4 linked regions of the Homo sapiens genome follow. The protein of the gene in region 4 purifies or fractionates together with the protein of the main gene of each other region. This does not show direct contact. Each region holds a gene or a part of one and is shown on either strand. Other genes may lie near its edges.

What was found.
Region 1: the proteins of SEMA4A (region 4) and TMEM192 purify together in Homo sapiens (affinity purification with mass spectrometry; one large-scale study listed by BioGRID and IntAct). This does not show direct contact.
Region 2: the proteins of SEMA4A (region 4) and LEMD3 purify together in Homo sapiens (affinity purification with mass spectrometry; one large-scale study listed by BioGRID and IntAct). This does not show direct contact.
Region 3: the proteins of SEMA4A (region 4) and SIRT5 purify together in Homo sapiens (affinity purification with mass spectrometry; one large-scale study listed by BioGRID and IntAct). This does not show direct contact.

The regions. Positions count from the first base shown.
Region 1 is NC_000004.12:165,084,684-165,089,367, forward strand, and holds part of TMEM192 (transmembrane protein 192), read right to left. Parts: intron 3,920-4,684; coding exon 3,785-3,919; intron 1,006-3,784; coding exon 903-1,005; intron 1-902.
Region 2 is NC_000012.12:65,217,585-65,222,268, reverse strand, and holds part of LEMD3 (inner nuclear membrane protein Man1), read right to left. Parts: intron 3,718-4,684; coding exon 3,650-3,717; intron 1-3,649.
Region 3 is NC_000006.12:13,594,419-13,599,102, reverse strand, and holds part of SIRT5 (NAD-dependent protein deacylase sirtuin-5, mitochondrial), read right to left. Parts: intron 3,627-4,684; coding exon 3,539-3,626; intron 2,141-3,538; coding exon 2,087-2,140; intron 1,376-2,086; exon of another isoform or gene 1,239-1,375; intron 74-1,238; exon of another isoform or gene 72-73; coding exon 1-71. UniProt on the Homo sapiens protein: NAD-dependent lysine demalonylase, desuccinylase and deglutarylase that specifically removes malonyl, succinyl and glutaryl groups on target proteins.
Region 4 is NC_000001.11:156,152,250-156,156,384, reverse strand, and holds the start of SEMA4A (semaphorin-4A isoform 1 precursor), read right to left. Parts: upstream 2,801-4,135; 5' UTR 2,621-2,800; intron 1,838-2,620; exon of another isoform or gene 1,836-1,837; 5' UTR 1,807-1,835; coding exon 1,668-1,806; intron 1-1,667. UniProt on the Homo sapiens protein: Cell surface receptor for PLXNB1, PLXNB2, PLXNB3 and PLXND1 that plays an important role in cell-cell signaling. Regulates glutamatergic and GABAergic synapse development.

The sequences.
Region 1 (4,684 bases), on a different chromosome or scaffold from region 4:
GGATCACTTGAGGTCAGGAGTTTGAGACCAGCCTGGCCAACATGGTGAAACCTTGTCGCTACTAAAAATACAAAAATTAGCTGGGCATGTATAGTTTTTTACATCTACTTTAGCCCCAAGATCTCCAACAGATATGAATGATATTTTAATTACCATGGAAGTCACTTAGGGAGAGACTGGATAGAAACAAGGGTGGGCAGACCGGGCTGGCTGTTTGGGAGGCTGAAATGGGAGGATTGCTTGAGCCCAGGAGTTTGAGGCCAGCCTGGGCAATACAGAGAGACTCTATCCCTTAAAAAGAAAATAACAGGCCGGGCGAGGTGGCTCACGCCTGTGATCCCAGCACTTTGGGAGGCTGAGGCGGGCGGATCACCTGAGGTCAGGAGTTCAAGACCAGCCTGACCAACATGGAGAAACCCCATCTCTACTAAAAATACAAAATTAGCCAAGCGTGGTGGTGCATGCCTGTAATCCCAGCTACTGGGAGGCTGAGGCAGGAGAATCGCTTGAAACTGGGAGGTGGAGACTACGGTGAGCCAAGATCATGCCACTGCACTCCAGCCTGGGCAACAAGAGCAAAACTCCATCTCAAAAAAAAAAAAAAAAAAAAGACACCTATAAAAAAAGGTGCTTCAAGGAGGGAGTAACCAGTTAATGATGTCAAAAGCTCTTGAGAGGTTAAATAGGTTGGCTAAGTGGTTAATTTTTTGCATCAAATATATGGCCTATTTAATACATTTACACATCCTGATTTAGACTTGATTTCACCACAGCTGAAAGGAAATAAACAAATCAAACAAATGTAAAAGTACAAATACACAATCATAAATTCCAAGCATCAGAATGGTTTCTAGCTTTCTAGGGGAAAAAACTCAATTATTTTATTCTCACCTAAATCTTACCTGAATCCAGTCTCCGAGGTAATATTGCTGGGGTAAGCATAGATTTTTTCTTCTTCAAGTATATCAGGCTCTGGTTTAGCTTTATTAAATCTCCGGATTTTCACTAAAATAATAAAGTCATTATTAGATCGAATTCTGAAAGACAAGTCTAGTTTCATTTTTTCAAATTATGCTAATTTGCCGTTCTTATTAACGTCCTTGAGTATTTCAAATTCTACTATGTGCCAGGCCTGTTCTAAGCCCTGGGAATATAGGGATTACATTAGTATTGAAATAGCAATAATAGCTGACATTTATTGTGCACTTAGAACACATGAGGCACAGTTTAAATGTTTTACATGGATGCCCTCATTCAGTTCTCATAAACACCTGCATGAAGTGGATGCTCCTATTACCCCGCAGTGAAGCCCAGAGAAGTTGAGCAACCAGCCAGCCATCTAATTCAGAAATCATGACTTCCTCTGGTCCAGGGGAAAATACAGATAATAATCCTACATTCTAAGACAGTATGGAAAGTACCTTCAATAGAAGCTTGTGCAAGAGGCTTGCACAAGGAGTTGTCAAGCTGCTTTTTGGCCTGGAAAGCAGTGCCTAACTCAACAGGAGGTATCAGAGAGGGGAAAAGAGGATAGAGTTTGAGCCCAGGAATTAATCACACAGACTAGGAGAATAAAGAAGGGTGCTTCAGGTGCAGGAGGAGTCTGAACAAATGCTATGGTCTTGAGAAGCTACACGTATGTATGGGTGTGAGGGTGTATGGACAAGGGGTGGGTTGGGAAGATAGGCAGAGAATGCATCAGGAGTGGCTGGTGTGTCATGCAAGGCATTTACACTTTTTTTTTTTTTTTTTTTGAGACGGAGTCTTGCTCTGTCGCTCAGGCTGGAGTGCAGTGGCACAACCTTGGCTCACTGCAACCTCTGTCTCTGCCTCCTAGGTTCAAGCAATTCTCCCACCTCAGCCTCCCGACTGGGATTACAGGCGTGCACCACCACACCCAGCTAATTTTTTTTGTATTTTCAGTAGAGACGGTGTTTCACCATGTTGGCCAGGCTGTTCTCAAACTCCTGGCCTCAAGTGATCCACCCGCTGAGGCCTCCCAAAGTGCTGGGATTACAGGCGTGAGTCACCAGGCCCGGCCTAAGACATTTAGATTTTATCCTCAGAGCAACTGGCAGTCTTTGAAAGGATCTCACCATCATCCCTGAAGAGCAGGCTAGGTAGAGGCCATTCAAGGAGAACCTTTCAGGCTGGGCATGGTGGCTCATGTCTGTAATCCCAGCACTTTGGGAGGCCGAGGCGGATAGATGACCTGACATCCGGAGTTTGAGACCAGCCTGGCGAACATGATGAGATGCTGTCTTTACTAAAAACACAAAAATTAGCTGGGTGTGGTGGTAGGCGCCTATAATCCCAGCCACTCAGGAGGCTGAGGCAGGAGAATCGCTTAAACCCAGGAGGCGGAGGTTGCAGTAAGCTGAGATCACGCCATTGCACTCCAGCCTGGGTGACGAGAGTGAAACTCCAACTCAAAAAAAAAATAAAGAAAATGCCTTTTATGCCACATGAAAACGTTAGATTTTTTTTCCTTCAGCTATTAGAAAACTCTGGGCAGGGAAGCTGTTAACAATCAGAGTTAAGTATAAACAAGATCATGTTGGCAGGAATAAGAAATATGAATCAGTGGACAGAGGGAAAGAGACCTGTTATGTGTCTCCTGGATGTAGCCATGCAAGAGATGATGAGTACCTAACCAAGGCAGTGGCAGGGACCAAAGAAAAGAGACAGAGCTGAAAGACAGGTAGACTGAATAAGACTGATGACTGACTGATCACCAATCCTATCCAGTTCTTGGGGAGTGAGGTAGAAGGAAGAAGGTAGATGACTCCTACGTTTCTAGGATTCTGATTTATCAAGTGGATGCAGGCTGGTATTGTTAACTGAGCTAGAAGAGGACGGTTAGGATGGAGGGAAATTTTGAAGAAAATTATGTTCTGTTCACTTCTGATCTTGTTGGTGCCTGTGGGACATGTGGATGAAAACTTCATTAAGCAGATGAATATATACAATTTGGGGCTGGGTGCGGTGGGTCATGCCTGTAATCCCAGCACTTTGGGAGGCCAAGGCGGGCGGATCACCTGAGGTCAGGAGTTAGAGACCATCCTGGCCAACATGACGAAACCCCATCTCTATTAAAGTGCTAGCCTCCTAAAGTGCTAGGATTACAGACATGAGCCACTGTGCCTGGCCTATTTCTTAATTTTTAATTTTAAATGCAAGCTGACATTTCAGCTGCCTTCAGAGAAGCAAAAGTTTGTGGATGTTTTTGTTGTTGTTGTTTTAGGAGACAGGGTCTTACTCTGTCACCCAGGCTGGAGTGCAGGCATGTGATCTTGGCTCACTGCAACCTCTGTCTCCCAGGCTCTAGTGATCCTCCCACGTCAGCCTCCTGAGGGGCTGGGACCACATTTGTGCACCACCATACCTGGCTAATTTTTTGTATTTTTTGTAGAGATGGAGTTTCATCATGTTGTCCAGGCTGGTCTTGAATTCCAGAGCTCAAGTGATCCTTCTGCCTCATCCTCCCAAAGAGCTGGGATTACAGGCTTGAGCCACCATTCCCAGCCCAAAAAGTTTGTGTCTTGTTTTAATGGAAAAGTTTCACTTGCATTAACAAAAATTTATTAATGACACAATCTTAAAAGAATGGGGTCTCACTGGTGGTGGCTGTACCTTCCTGTTGGTTTGAAATTAAAGAAGTCTGCATGTGGTCACCACTCAGATACACAGAGAACTTCCTTGTCGCTAATGGGCTATACTTTAAACTGGGAGGAAAGGAAGCAGTTCGAAGTTCCTATAAGAACAGGCTCGTTGTAATTCTCACCTGTGTAAATGAGGAGACATATCAGGGAACAGATGAGTTCCAGTGCCAAGATGGCCAGAATGAGGTCAAGATACAATCTGCCAGGCTCTGGGAAGGAGTGCTGCATGCACAGTATGAGGAGAAGCACTGTGTTGCCTGAGGAGGAGAAACATAAAACACAGCATGTGATGAGAAATACATATATGGTCTTTGTCCAATAGATAGTTGGTCTTTGTCTGGTTCCTTACACAGAGCTCCTAAAACACTTGTAATTTCCTGAGTGATCAGAGCCTTCAGAAATGAAGACCCAGGCCAGGTGCAGTGGCTCACACCTGTAATGTCAGCATTTTGGGAAGTCAAGACAAGAGGATTGCTTGAGCCCAGGTGGTCGAGACCAGCTTAGGCAACATAGCAAGACCCCATCTCTATAAAAAAATATAAAAAATTAGCCAGGCATGGTGGCACACATCTGTAGTTCCAGCTACCTGGGAGGCTAAGGTGGGAGGATTGCTTGAGCCTGGGAGGTTGAGGCTGCAGTGAGCTGAGGTCGTGTCACTGCACTCCAGCCTGGGCAACAGAGCAAGACCCTACTGCAAAAAAAAAAAAAAAAAAAAAAAAAAGGAAAAGAAATGAAAGACCCAGAGAAAACTATTCTTATGCTTAGGTTTGATGAAGAATGGACAGCCATGTAGAAATGTGAGTGGACAAAGTATGATCTACTGGGAATAGACTGAAGGGGCAAACCCAGCAAGACCTGTCTATTCAGGTTCTTCTCGGCCTCTCTGTGTAGACTCCTCACCCCCAACCCTCCTGCCATATAGGGCAGGACCCCTCTGAAATAAGGGTCTTCAAGGGAAAAGGGTAAAGGGAGAAAGGGTTCTCTTTTTTTTTGGAGACGGAGTCTCACTCTGTCGCCCAGGC
Region 2 (4,684 bases), on a different chromosome or scaffold from region 4:
TACAAAAATCAAAACTGAGTATGCCACATTAATAGAACAAAGGATTAAAATCACATGATCATCTCAATAGATGCAGAAAAAGCATTTGACAAAATTAAATATCCTTTCATGATAAAACCATTCAATAAAGAGGAATAGAAGGAAATTATCTCAACATATTAAAGGCCATACATGGAAACCCTTAGCTAATATCATACTCAATGGTGACAAACTGAAAGATTTTCCTGGCCAGGCATGGTGGCTCACACTTATAATCCCAGCACTTTGGGAGGCCGAGGTGGGTGGATCACGTGAGGTCAGGAGTTCGAGACCAGCCTGGCCAACATGGTGAAACCCCATCTCTACTAACAATACAAAAAAATTAGCCAGGTGTGGTGGCACACACCTGTAATCCCATCTACTCAGGAAGCTGAGACATGTGAATCGCTTGAGCCCAGGAGGTGGAGGTTGTATTGAGCAGAGATCACACCACTGCACTCCAGCCTGGGCGACAGAGTGAGACTCTGTCTCAAGGAAAAAAAAAAAAAAAAAAGAGAGATTTTCCTCTAAGATCAGGAAGAAGGCCAGGGTGGCTATTTTTCCCATCTCTATCTCTCATAGCACTAGACATCCTAGCCAAAGCAATTAGATAAGAAAAAGAAATAAAAAACATCCAAATCAGAAAGAAGTAAATTTATCTCTCTTAGCAAGTGACATAATCTTATACATAGAAAGCCCTAAAGATTTCACCAAAAAAATCTTGTTATTTGGCTGGGTGTGGTGGCTCATGCTTGTAATCCGTGCTTTAGGAGGCCAAGGCAGGAGGATAACTTGAGCCCAGGAGTTTGAGACCAGCCTGGGCAACATAGCAAGGCCCCTATCTCTACTAAAAAGAATCTTGTTAGAATAAACAAATTCAGCTAAGTTGGAAGATATAAAATCAATATACAAAAATCAGTTACATTTCTATACACTAACAACAATCTGAAAAGGAGGTTAAGAAAATAATCCCATTTATAATAGCATTAGAAAGATTTAGATACTTAGGAATAAACTTAACCAGGGAGGTGAAAGACTTATACACTGAAAACTACAAAAAAAAAAAAAAAAGCTGAATGAAATAAAAGACACAAATAAATAGAAAGACATCTCATGTTCGTGAATTGGAAGACTTAATATTACTCAAATTACTATACCACCGAAGGCAATACAGCAATACAAAATCCCAATAGCATTTTTTGCAGAAATAGAAGACATAATCCTAATATCCATATGGAACCACAAAGGCCTCACACTGACTTTAAAACATATGACAAAACTATAGTAATCAAAACAGTATAGTACTAGCATAATAATAGACATAAATGGACCAGTGGAACAAAATAGAGAACCAGAAATAAAGCCACTGATGTATGATCCAACAATCTTCTACAAGGGTGCCAGACTACACAATGGAGAAATGACAATCTCTTCAATAAATGGTGCTAGGAAAACTGGATTTCCACATGCAACAGAATCAAACTGGACCTTTATCTTATACCGTACACAAAAATCAACTCCAAATGGATTAAAGACTTAAATGTAAGACCTGAAACTATATAACTTCTTGAAGAAAACATAGAAGAAAAGCTTCTTGACGTTGATATGGGCAATAATTTCTTGGACATGACACCAAAAGCATAGGCAACAAAAGCAAAAACAGAAAAGTGGGACTACATCAAACTAAAAAGCATATGTGCAGTAAAAAAAAACAGTGAATACAGTGAAAAAGTAACCTACAGAATGGGAGAAAATATTTGCAAACCATATATCTGACAAGGGGTTAATATGCAAAATGCATAAGAAACCCCCACAATTCAATAACAAAATAAATAACCCAACTTAAAAATCAGCAAAGAACTTGAATAGCACTTCTCCAAAGAAGATATACAAATGGCCAACAGATAAGGTATTATATATATGCTGTATACATGCTATATATACACACAGATGTATATGTATATAAATGGTATATGAAAAGATGCTCAACATCAGTAATCATCAGGGAAACACAAATAAAAACACAGTGAGCTATAAGGCAAATAAGTGTTAAGGATAGGCAGAAACTGGAATCCTACTATACTATTGGAAAGAATGTAAAATGGTACAGTCAATATGAAAACAGTATGGAGGTTCCTCAAAAAATAAAAAGTTGAACTACCATATTATCTATCAATCCCACTTCTAGGTATTTGTCTAACAGAATTAAAAGTAGAGTCTCAAAGAAGTACTTGCATTGCCATGTTCATTGATGAATTATTCACAATAGCCAAGAGGTGGAAACAATCTAAAAGCCCATCAACATGACTGGATAAAGAAAATATATGTATACATACAATGAAATTCTACTCAGCCTTAAAAAATGAAGGAAGTACTGTCATGTTACAATATGGATGAAACTTGAAGATATTATGCTAGGTGAAATAAGCCAGTCACAGGACAAAAATTGCAGGATTCAACTTATATGAGGTATCTGTTAATCACACTGATGGAGGAAGAAAGTAAAATGGTGGTTGCCAGGGATATGGAGCAGAGGAAAACGGGGGCCTGCTGTGCAATGGCTATAGAGTTTCAGTCATACAAGATGAAGAAGTTCTAGAGATTTGCTGTATAAGAATGCACATATAGTTGTACGGTATACTTAAAAATATGTTAACAGATTTCACGTTATATATTTTTTACCACAATTTTAACAAGGGGATGGGAGGCATGAAATTTGTATGGCATGACTTGTCCACGTTCAAATGCCAGCCACCTTCCAGGGATCAACGTTTCCATTTGCAAGAACTCAGATCTTTATGAAATTATCTTTATGGAACTGGACCGACAACAAGCTTTCCTGTATGGTTTTCAAATGCCACTTTCCACTTCTGAGAAATCAGAATGACATTTATCCATCTTTAATCTTTTACTACCTTTCATTAAGATTTTCCAGAAATTATTTACAGTAGTTTAGAAAATTCAACAGCAAGTTCTCTTAGTATTTGGAGAAGAAACTGATGTGGGACAGAAGATTTTAAATAAATGGTTAGATATTTACCTGCTCTCTTACATGCTACTACTCACCTATCTCAATTTCCCTATGACCAATGTTTCTTTGTACCCTTTCCAAATTAATATGCATTCTCTCATAGAGAATGTTCTAAAACAAACTAAAAAAAATTGAACAGGTGGCTCACGCCTATAATCCCAGCACTTTGGGAGGCCAAGGCATGCAGATCACTTGAGGCCAGGAGTTTGAGACCAGCCTGGCCAACATAGTGAAACTCCATCTCTACTAAAAATACAAAAAACATTAGCTGGGCGAGGTGGTGGGTGCCTGTAATTCCAGCTACTCGCGAGGCTGAGGCAGGAGAATCGCTTGAACCCCGGTTGCGAACGTTGCAGTGAGTCGAGATCAGCCATTGCACTCCAGCCTGGGGAACAAGAGCGAAACTGTGTCTCACAAAAAAAAAAAAAAAAAAAAAGTTGAACAATTTTACTTTCTCATAACTGCTCATATTATACCAAACAGCAGGCCCAAGCTTTTAACAGTACAATTAAAATAATCAAACATATGATTCTTACAAGTAGCAATGATTTATATAATTTTTTAAAATATAGCTATTAAAATTCTAATTTCATTGCTTACTTTTAAATACGCAGCTGCCTCTTGAACAGAAAGCGTTCTTTGACTAGAACTGCCACATTCATGATCTCCTGGAAAGATTAGCATATTATTAATTTTGAATCAGTACTCTCTTAAACAGAAGAAAACAAACATAATTAATTCAAATATTTTATACATTATACAATTACAGGTTATATTATTATAATCAGTAAAGAAAGAACATGAACAATATTATTTATAATTTCTAGAAGAAATTCCAGTAAGAATATAAACAAAGAAATTCCAGTAAGAATATAAACAAACAACTACCATTACATTAACCACAACTTTTAAATGCATTTCAGTCCAAACAAGAACTTATCTTCCTCTTATATTCCCAACTAAACTGTAAGCTGGTATAGGAACTATGTCACACTGATGCCTATCCACAGATCTTGGCACACAAGACGCCCTCCAGAAATATGTATTATTCCTAAAAGGGAAAAAATTCAGCATATTCATTGTGCTAACTTAACTTACACATCTATTCTTAAAGCTAATCATTTAAGGGTTCAAATAAGTTTGAATTTATTAATGAATTAAAGTATGTGCATTTTCAGAGTATAACTAATCCTATCTTTAGCAAGGGGTGTGCATGCCTTAAAAACTGTTATAACATAACCAGGTGTGGTAGTATGCATCTGTTGTCCCAATTATTCGGGAAGCAGAGGCGAGAAGACAGCTTGACTCCATAAATTTGAAGCTGCAGTGAGCTGTGATCACCCTACTTCACTCCAGCCTGAGTGACAGAAAAGATCCTGTCTCAAAAAAATCTTAAAAAACAAAAATTGTTATAACAGACCAACAGGGAAATCAGGTACAAGTTTCCACCTATGATCTGGTTTCTACAAAGGGATGTGCTCATATAAATCTTTGGAAAACTACATTTATCTTTTCTTTTAATTGTTGATAAGAAGCGAATTCAGGGCTTTTTCTTTAGACTATAAGTGGTTATTAGAAATAAATTATCCTCATATTGAACTCCAATTGTCATGTTTTCCCTTCCCTGTGTCTTTC
Region 3 (4,684 bases), on a different chromosome or scaffold from region 4:
CAGGATCCAGGTTTTCTCCAAACCACACGACGTGAGGTCGCAGCAAGCCCCCGCAGCCTGCCTCTTCACACCTGGAAGAATGGGATCCTTAAGCCAACCCCGAGCCAAGTCTGCCCAGCTGGATCGGAGGGAGGCCAGGGGCTGCCCCAAACCTAGTACATCCAGATGGGTCACCTCTGATGCCTCTTATTCCCTACACCCTCCCTCCCAGCCTATATAAACTTGCCTTGCTTATGAAGCATCAGGTTTAATGGTCTTTTTTTTTTTTTTTTTTTTTGAGACGGAGTCTCACTCTGCTGCCCAGGCGGAAGTGCAATGCCATGGTCTCCGCTCACTGCAACCTCTGCCTCCCAGGTTCAAGCAATTCTGCCTCAGCCTCCCGAGCAGCTGGGACTACAGTCATGTGTGACCACACCCAGCTAATTTTCGTATTCTTAGTAGAGACATGTTTCACCACATTCGCCGGGCTGGTCTCAAACTGCTGACCTCAGGTGATCTGCCCTCCTCGGCCTCCCAAAGTGCTGGGATTACAGGCATGAGCCACCGCGCCCTGCAGAACTGTCCTTATTTTTTATCTTGTCTGTATGTACTTGATGTGCTGACACATTGTTTCAGCTAAGCTTTCCCAGTTCATTCATTATGCTCACATTTGTGCTCACAGCCACCCAGACCTGGGAGACATACTGGACTCAGATTTGCCTCCCACCCCAAGCATCCCCTAATTTCATCAATGACCTCCTTTCATGTTCTCTCAGGTTCATGTCTCTCTGGCCCAGTATGTAGCCAGCTTTCCTGTGTCCATTACTAAAAATCTCTCTTCTTTCACTCCCTCCTACCTCAGGGTTACCTTCTATACACCTCCTAAAACCATCCCCCAAACACCATTTTCATCATAGTAATCTCCTGCATCACAGGAATCCTCCAGGTCTACCTATTCCTTCAGAAGAAAACTTTTAATATTTAGCAATTAAAACCCTCATGAGGAAAATTTAAAAGGTTCTGTGGTTAAATAAGCCAGTAAAGCATTAACATACGTATTACAACCACTTTTTAGAAGGCAGCAATGTGGATTAAATGCTCTAAAAAGTCCTGCAGTAAAGCAAACATATTTTAACTTTGTTTAGTCTAACATTTCCATATTTATTTGAGTGCCTAACATGTTTTTTTCAAGTAATGTCTCAACGTAACATTAAATTAATGTTCTATGAAACACTTTTAGAAGTGCTGTTTTATTTTACCTTAAAAACACTCTAATCCAGCCGGGTGCAGTGGTTCACGCCTGTAATCCCAGCATGTTGGGAGGCTGAGGCGGGTGGATCATCTGAGGTCAAGAGCTCGAGACCAGCCTGGCCAACATGGCGAAACCTCATCCCTGCTAAAAACACAAAAAATAGCCAGGCGTGGTGGCGGGCGCCTATAATCCCAGCTACTCGGGAGGCTGAGGCAGAAGAATCACTTCAACCCAGGAGGTGGAGGTTGCAGTGAGCCAAGATCGTACCATTGCACTCCAGCCTGGGTGACAGAGTGAGATTCCATCTCAAAAAAAAATAAAATAAAATAAACACAACAAAAAAACTTCTAATCCAATTACAGGTTATAGAAGTGCTGTTTTAATGCCTGGTTTTGAAAAATTGGCATAAAAATCTTCCTTTTTTTTTTTTTTTTTTTTAATCTATGAACATTCTGTTTGGTCCTGTAACCTCTCCTATTCAGGTCCTTTCATTGCCTCCCTAACCCTGGATTAATAATGCCAGTGATGTTATTTGACCAGTTACAGGTCAGCCCCTATGCTTTCTGTACACTGGGTAACCACCTGTCGCACGACAGCTTCAGAAACTTTCCCGACCTCAAATGATCCTACCACAACACAAAGCAAAAAGAGGTTGGAAAAAAATCATTCTTTTCATCCTAATTTGGTTCATCCTTTGTCCTTTCACTTTTGGTCTCAGAGATCAAGCCTGGTTTTTACATTTGTGCATTTGATTTAAGAGGCGTCTTGCCAAATACATGTTTAGGTTTTGATGTCTGTTTTTTTTTTTGTTTTGGTAACCTGGAACACCAGTACAAATCAGAGTTTTCTACCTACCGGGGAAGTTTCTCAACTGGGATGCTGGCATCTTGAGTTCCAGGTTCTGGAGCACTGAAGTAAATAATATTAGAAAAGAAAGATTGTTATTGGCATAATAAAAAATAAAGAAACAACATAACTCAGTTTGTATATTTGCCTGGCAGTATGTGGTATAAAACTCCTAATTAATACATGCTCACTTGGAAGGGCATTAGAAGGAAGGACCCCAAGCCATTAATTACCAGTGGTGCTGGGCACAGTGGCTCATGCCTGTAATCCCAGCATTTGGTGAGGCCAAAGTGGGAGGACTGCTTGAGGCCAGAAGTTCAAGACAACCCTCGGCAATACAGTAAGACTGCATTTCTACCAGAAATACAAAAATTAGCTGAGTGTGGTGATGTGTGCCTATAGTCCTAGCTACTTGGGAGGCTGAGGCAGGAGGATTGCTCGAGCCCAGGAGTTGGAGGCTGCAGTAAGGTGTGATTGTGCCACTGTACTCCAGCCTGGGAAACAGAGCAAGAACCTGTCTCAGAAAAAAAAAAATCACCAGTGGTTGTACTGCCAGTGAGGGAATGCATGTGTGGGGAGGGCTGGAGTGGCTGGGTGTGCCAAGGGGGAACTTCATGTTTACCTTTATACATCATCATCATCATCATTTGTATCCTCTGCAATGACATTATATAGTCCTTATACAATTTATACTGTTTTTAAAAGGCTGAGTGGAATTTTTCTCAATATTGTGTCTACCCTCAAATTTTTTCCTCATTGTAATAATAGTACATGTTCATAATAGAAATATAGGAAAATTCAGAAAGATATAAAGAAGAAATTAAAAATTACCCATAATCCCTCCACTCCTGATATTCCTTATTAACATTTTGTTGTATTTTCTTCTGGTCTTTTAACTATATACAGATACACGAACTCATTGTGTGTACAAATTTAGGACCCTGTGGTTTTCACTTAACACTGTAAGTTGTGAGCAAAATATTTCTTTTATCACATGGCTATATTTAGTTTTTTTGTTTGTTTGTTTGTTTTTTGAGACAGGGTCTCCCTCTGTCACCCAGGCTGTAGTGCAGTGGCATGATCTCAGCTCACTGCAGCCTTGACTTCCCAGGCTCAAATAACCCTCCCACCTCAGCCTCCCTAGTAGCTGGGACTACAGGCATGTGCCACCACACCCAGCTAATTTTTGTGGTTTTTTGTTTTGTTTTGTTTTTTTGTAGGACAGGTTTCTCACTGTGTTGCCCAGGCTGGTCTTGAACTCCTGAACTCAAGCAGTCTCCCCACCTTGTAACCCCAAAGTGCTGGGATTACAGGCATGAGCCACTGCACCCAGCCTTGTATTTAGTCTTATTTCTCATAAATATCCATGGGAATCTTTGATGAATGTTCAATTTCCTCACATTTATGTTCAACCTAAAGGAGAAAACAACCTATACTTATTCTGTAGTGTGGTATAATTACCCTTTTCCTGATAAAGCTGGACAAATTGGACTCTTGTAATTCTCAGCCACAACTCCACAAGAGGTACATCGAGTTTTAAATAAGCTACCTGAAAAATACATATGAAGCAAATCCAGAATTTAGTATAATCAAGAGCAACCTTCTCCATGTCTAAAAGGGTATAAGATACTTTATTTTTCACACTTCATTTCATGTTTTGGTCTCACCCAGTTACCCAGGCTGGAGTGTAGCAGTACGATCATAGCTCACTGCAGCTTCCAACTCATGGGCTCAAGCGATCCTCCCACCTTTGCCTCCTGAGCAGCTGGGACTATAGGTGTGCACCGCCACACTGAGCCATACTTCATTTTAGCAAATGGGCCTACCCTAGCTTTAGCTTTCATGGGAAACAGAGGCATGCAGTACTCTTAAGCCAGTCAAGAGCATATGCCCTCAAGGACTTTATAATCTGGAGGAAAAATAAATAACTCCATGACTAATGTGCCATCAGATGACCTTGGAGTGGTGTTCAAGTGGGCAGAAGTTGCCAATAGGGTAGAGGGAGCTCAACCTAAATCTAAGGGCGTGATTTATTGACATGACTGACAAAGGTTCAATGGCGTGGGATATGTTTACAAAATTTTAACTTCGATTTCAGAAAGCTTGAATCTTTTATACAAAAGCACCTCAATAAATAAGTAATCAACTAATAAGTGAAAAAAGTAATTGTTAATACTAACCACCACTTATTGAGCTGAAGCAATCATGGTGGCCACAGTTTATGAAATGGGTACCAGGCAACTGGTGCCGTGCAGAGCACTTTCAACCCTAGTGGACATGCGCTGCTCCGTCCTGCCCACCAGTCCTTCCTTGGGGAGCACCATCCCTGCTCTCTCGCATGCTGAGCCAATAGGGCTGTGGGTCACATCCCAAATACAAGCTCAGCCACATGCTGCGCACGGCCCCCATGTGGTGTCCATCCCTCTGCAGTCGTGTTTGGTCAGAAGGGTGGGCGTGTGGACCAAGCAAGCCTACCCAGAGGTTTATTTTCTGAGCAGGTGGCTGAGCTGGAGCCGTCGGAGGCACTCTCCCTTGGCGCGTGGAGACAGATCAATTGCAGAGAGAGAAGGGAGGCCACCTCAAAGAGTGAGCAAAGCTGAAAGAAGG
Region 4 (4,135 bases):
TGAGGACTTGGTGGGCAGGCAGCTGACTCCTGAGATAAAAGTGGGGGAAGGGGAAGGGTTGCCTGAGTGTGCTCCCCAGGCCTTGGCAGCTAGATGCACTCTCCTCCACCAGCAGTTCTTCCCTTCACCCCACCCCAACACAAGAGCGTTGTGTGCTGAGCCCGCAGTAGAGAGGAGAGGCAGCCAGAGGCAGGGTAATGGGGACGGGAAATAAAGTGAGGCACAGTGGATGCTCTTCCAGGCCTGGGACAGGGAGGGCTACCGTCGGGGAGGACGCCTTGGTCCTCACTAGGATGAGGAGCAGCAGGCAGACAGACAAACAGGAAAGTGTTGGCAGCCACAAGCAGCAAAGCTATATGCAGACAGGAGGGCGTATGTCAGAGTCCCTCTCGCCATCCCCCCAACCACCCCTGCTTTCTTCCTCTTCTGTTAAAGGAAATTCCCACCAGTAGAGTCACCACGAACAGAGAGGAAGCATTTTTCTTCAAAGATCCATGTGGGCATGGCTGGATGTCCCCTGGGCAGGGATGGTGAGCCAGGTGTGGGAGGCTCACCTAGGTCCTCTCCATGACCTTGGCATGGTGGGGTGGGTGGGGGTGTATTTTCCTGTCCCACTGGCACATCGGCAAGGAGGAAGGAGCTCCTCAGATCCTCTCTCATTAGCACTTGCACTGTTGCATTAGTTAGAAAGCTGACTAGCTAATTGATACCTTTGCAGGCTCAGGGAATCTTACACAGTACAGAGGGGAGAAGTTGGGGAATCTGGTGTGGCTGCGGGATGGAAGGGCCAGCCTCAGGGAGGAGCATCTCCTGGAGGCCAGGCCTCCCCCAGAGCTGCCATAAACCCCTCAGTTGCTGAACAGATCACCCTGTATTGATGGTCTGATTGCTCATGTCTTCCCCCTTGTGACTGTGAACACCTTGAGGGCAGGGGCTGAGGCTTATCCGTGTTTGTGCGCCCAGCATCCAACACAGAGGAGGTCTCTGCATCAATGAGCAATATACATTTCTTTTACCAATTGCCCCAGAAAGATGCTAAAGACACAGCCATGCCCAGTCACCTACAACTCCTACAGTGTCTACATCCTTTCCTGAGTCTTCTCCCTGGAGGTGAGGGGGCCAGCAGCCTCCACAGTCTCAGTAAGAAACCAGCCAAGCTGTGCTTGTGTGTGGGTTCCAGGGCCCATTCTCCAACCAGCCATCCCATGGTCCTGGACATGGTATGGTCCAGCATGATCTATGTGGTTGGCATGGGCCTGGCGAGCTCCGGGTCACCGGGTCCACATATGGTCTTCTAGCATGGGCCTTGACTTTGGGGTACCTGGGAGTGTGAAGCAGTTAGGAGTTTGAGGTGCCCAGCTTGGTGACAGTGATATTTAAGGAAGGAAAGAAAAATTACCAACATGGAGAACTGGAAGAAGCGTGCCCCTGGCCCCGTGGCCACCTGTTTTCCTCAATCTGCTCTCCAGTGGCTTTTCTTTCCTTTTGGACTTCTGTTTCTGGCTGTGTCTCTCTTTCTCCGAGATCCTCTGTTTCTCCCTGGCATCTCTCTCTGTGTCCCTGTTTCTCCATATCCATTTCCTCCCCTCCTCTGTTCCTCTCTCCTTCCTCCACCCACCTCCAGCTCTCTATTGCTATCCCCACACTTCCTGCTGTCGGACACTTACCTGCATAGTATCTGACCCTGGGCATGGGCCCCTGCCCGCCTCCCCCCGCGGTCGTCGTCGGCAGCAGCAGCTGAAGCAGTTGGAAGAGGAAAAGGCCCAGGAGGCTCCAGGGGTCCAGGCCCAGGGCTGGGAGGGCCATGCTCAGCCACAGACTGTCACCAGGGAGCTCTGGGGAAACAGGCACCCGGGCACTTTCTGGGTGAGCAGTTCTTACCACATCCCCCCGAGGACCAATAGGAGAGCCCCAGGCAGCAGAAGCGTGTGTATTGGTGGCAGGGGTGGGGCATTGGGGCAGAGAAGGTTCCCTATCTGGAAGGGCCCTAAGACGGTCTCACTTTCATCATCCTTCCAGGCCTCAGCCTGTCACCTCACTGTCCCCTATGGGTAGGAGCCCAGGTCTCCCCTATCCTGCTTCTTCTGTTGTCTTCTCACCAACAGCTCTGGTTTGCCTTTTTTTGCCTTACTCTCAGGAAGTCTTTCCTGTCTTTCCTCCTTTGCCTTCCCTCTTCTCATAGCCCAAGCCCAAACCGTTGCCTGGCTCTGGGCAGGGAACATTTTGGGGAGCAGGTTCCTGTACCCAAAATATAAATTCCTCAGACCTTACTCTCCTGTCACTTTCAGATCTGTTGACACCTGTGCCTCATACTCAGCTCTGACCCAGGTAGGCAGACTGGGTTTGAGTCTGCCTGCTCTAACCTCTCCCCCAGCCCCAGCTGGGTTCAGGGTCTTTGAGGCTCAGGCCTGCCTGGCCTGATACTTCCAGGGAGGCAATGAGGGTCCATCCCACCAGGTTGGTTATCAGCATTTCCCGGGGAGCTGCCTGGGCAGGGGTGGCTGGCCGGCTCCCAGCCTCTGCAGCTCCCCGGCCCCCTTGTCTCTTGCTCCTGTGTCTGCCTCCCTGGGCCTCTACATAATCTTCCCCAAGACCACCCACCCCAAGCCACCCATCTCACCTCACATACCCTTGAACCAGCCACAGTGGGAAACTCGGTGTCTGGATTCTAGGGCGGGGGTGCCATTCAGGAGAAAGAAGAAGGGGGGTTCCCAGGCCCCAGAGGCAGGGGACAGAAGGCTCAGCCTGGCTGGAACGGGAGTGCGGCCCTCCAGGTGCCCATCATGCCAAAGCCAGCACTGGGAGCTCTAGGCCAGGGAAACCGGAATTTCCACCTCTCGAGTTGTGACAGATCCTGGCTTGGGCGGAAGTTGGTGGATTGGGAGGGAATAAAAAGACGTTCACCCACCTCACAAGAGACACACCTCTCTCTCCCTCCTCTGCTCGGTCCAACCAGAAAGTTTAAGAGGCCCTTCTAGGTCATTTCAGCGATTCCCCTGCCTCTCCATCATGTCACAGCCAGTATAACCAGCCTAGCAGTGGTTTCTTCTCTTGCTTAAGATTTCCCAGATAGGGGACATGACATATTCTTCTTTTCACTTACCCACAAGGTGGGGTCTCTCTACTCCTACCTACTGGGAAGTCCCTGCAGTGGTCTAACCTTTAAACCTCCCACTCTCAGCTGGGCCACAGTCTTTAAAAAAATAAAATAAAATAATTGTATTAGGCTCTTATCCATGATTTTGCTGAGGAAGTCCCCCTTGCAGTCTAATCTCCATCACTCTTTGACATCAGGCCAATAGGAAGCCCAGAAATCAGGCCAGTAGAAAGCCCAGAACATTTCCCATCTGAACTCGTGCTCACTGGACCACACTTTGGAGGCACCCAACCCCCAAAGGTGGCTGCTCACCCCTCCCTAAAGGCTCCAGGGGGAGCCTCATAACGCGGGGTTAATGAGGCATCCAGCGCCAAGAACTCTGTGGCCTACAAAGTGGGTAGGTTCCTGCCCACTCGACATGGTCAGCTGACTGCAGGTTAAAGAGCACAGACATCCCAGGGCTAATCCAACTCTAATAAATAATCCACTTCCATCTGACATGCACATTCCTCCCTGGCAGGAAGTCCTTCCTGTAGTGTAACTTCCATCCCTCCTGCTACAGCACCAGCCAACATGGGGGATGTTACAGCTCAGGCTACTCCTTATAATTCCTCATCTGAGGTACTCAGCCTTCTTTCATCTCTCTCAGTTTCCCCGGGGGTTGGTCTCAGACATATCCTGCCTGACAATCGTTTCTGTCAAGACTTGCCTAGGACTCCCCCAGACTCTCCCAGAGGCTGGTTGCCAGGTCCCTTCCAGTTTCTTAGAATCAAGAGAAACTCCCATTTATCCAGACCCTACCTTCTGTGTCTCCCCAACCCCCAGCTCAGATTTGGGAAGCCAGTCTGCCCCTGGGCCTCTCTGCTTAAACAGATTGGCTCATTTGGGTCACTGGGAAGAGTTCTGATACGGGGAGGCTGGGGGAGTTCCAGCCCTACACTCCCAGCCTGATGTCCTATTCCCACCTTTCTGGAAGTCATAGACTCCATGCCCTGCCCCCAGTTCTTCCTCCAGACATCCAGAATTCTCCCAACTCCG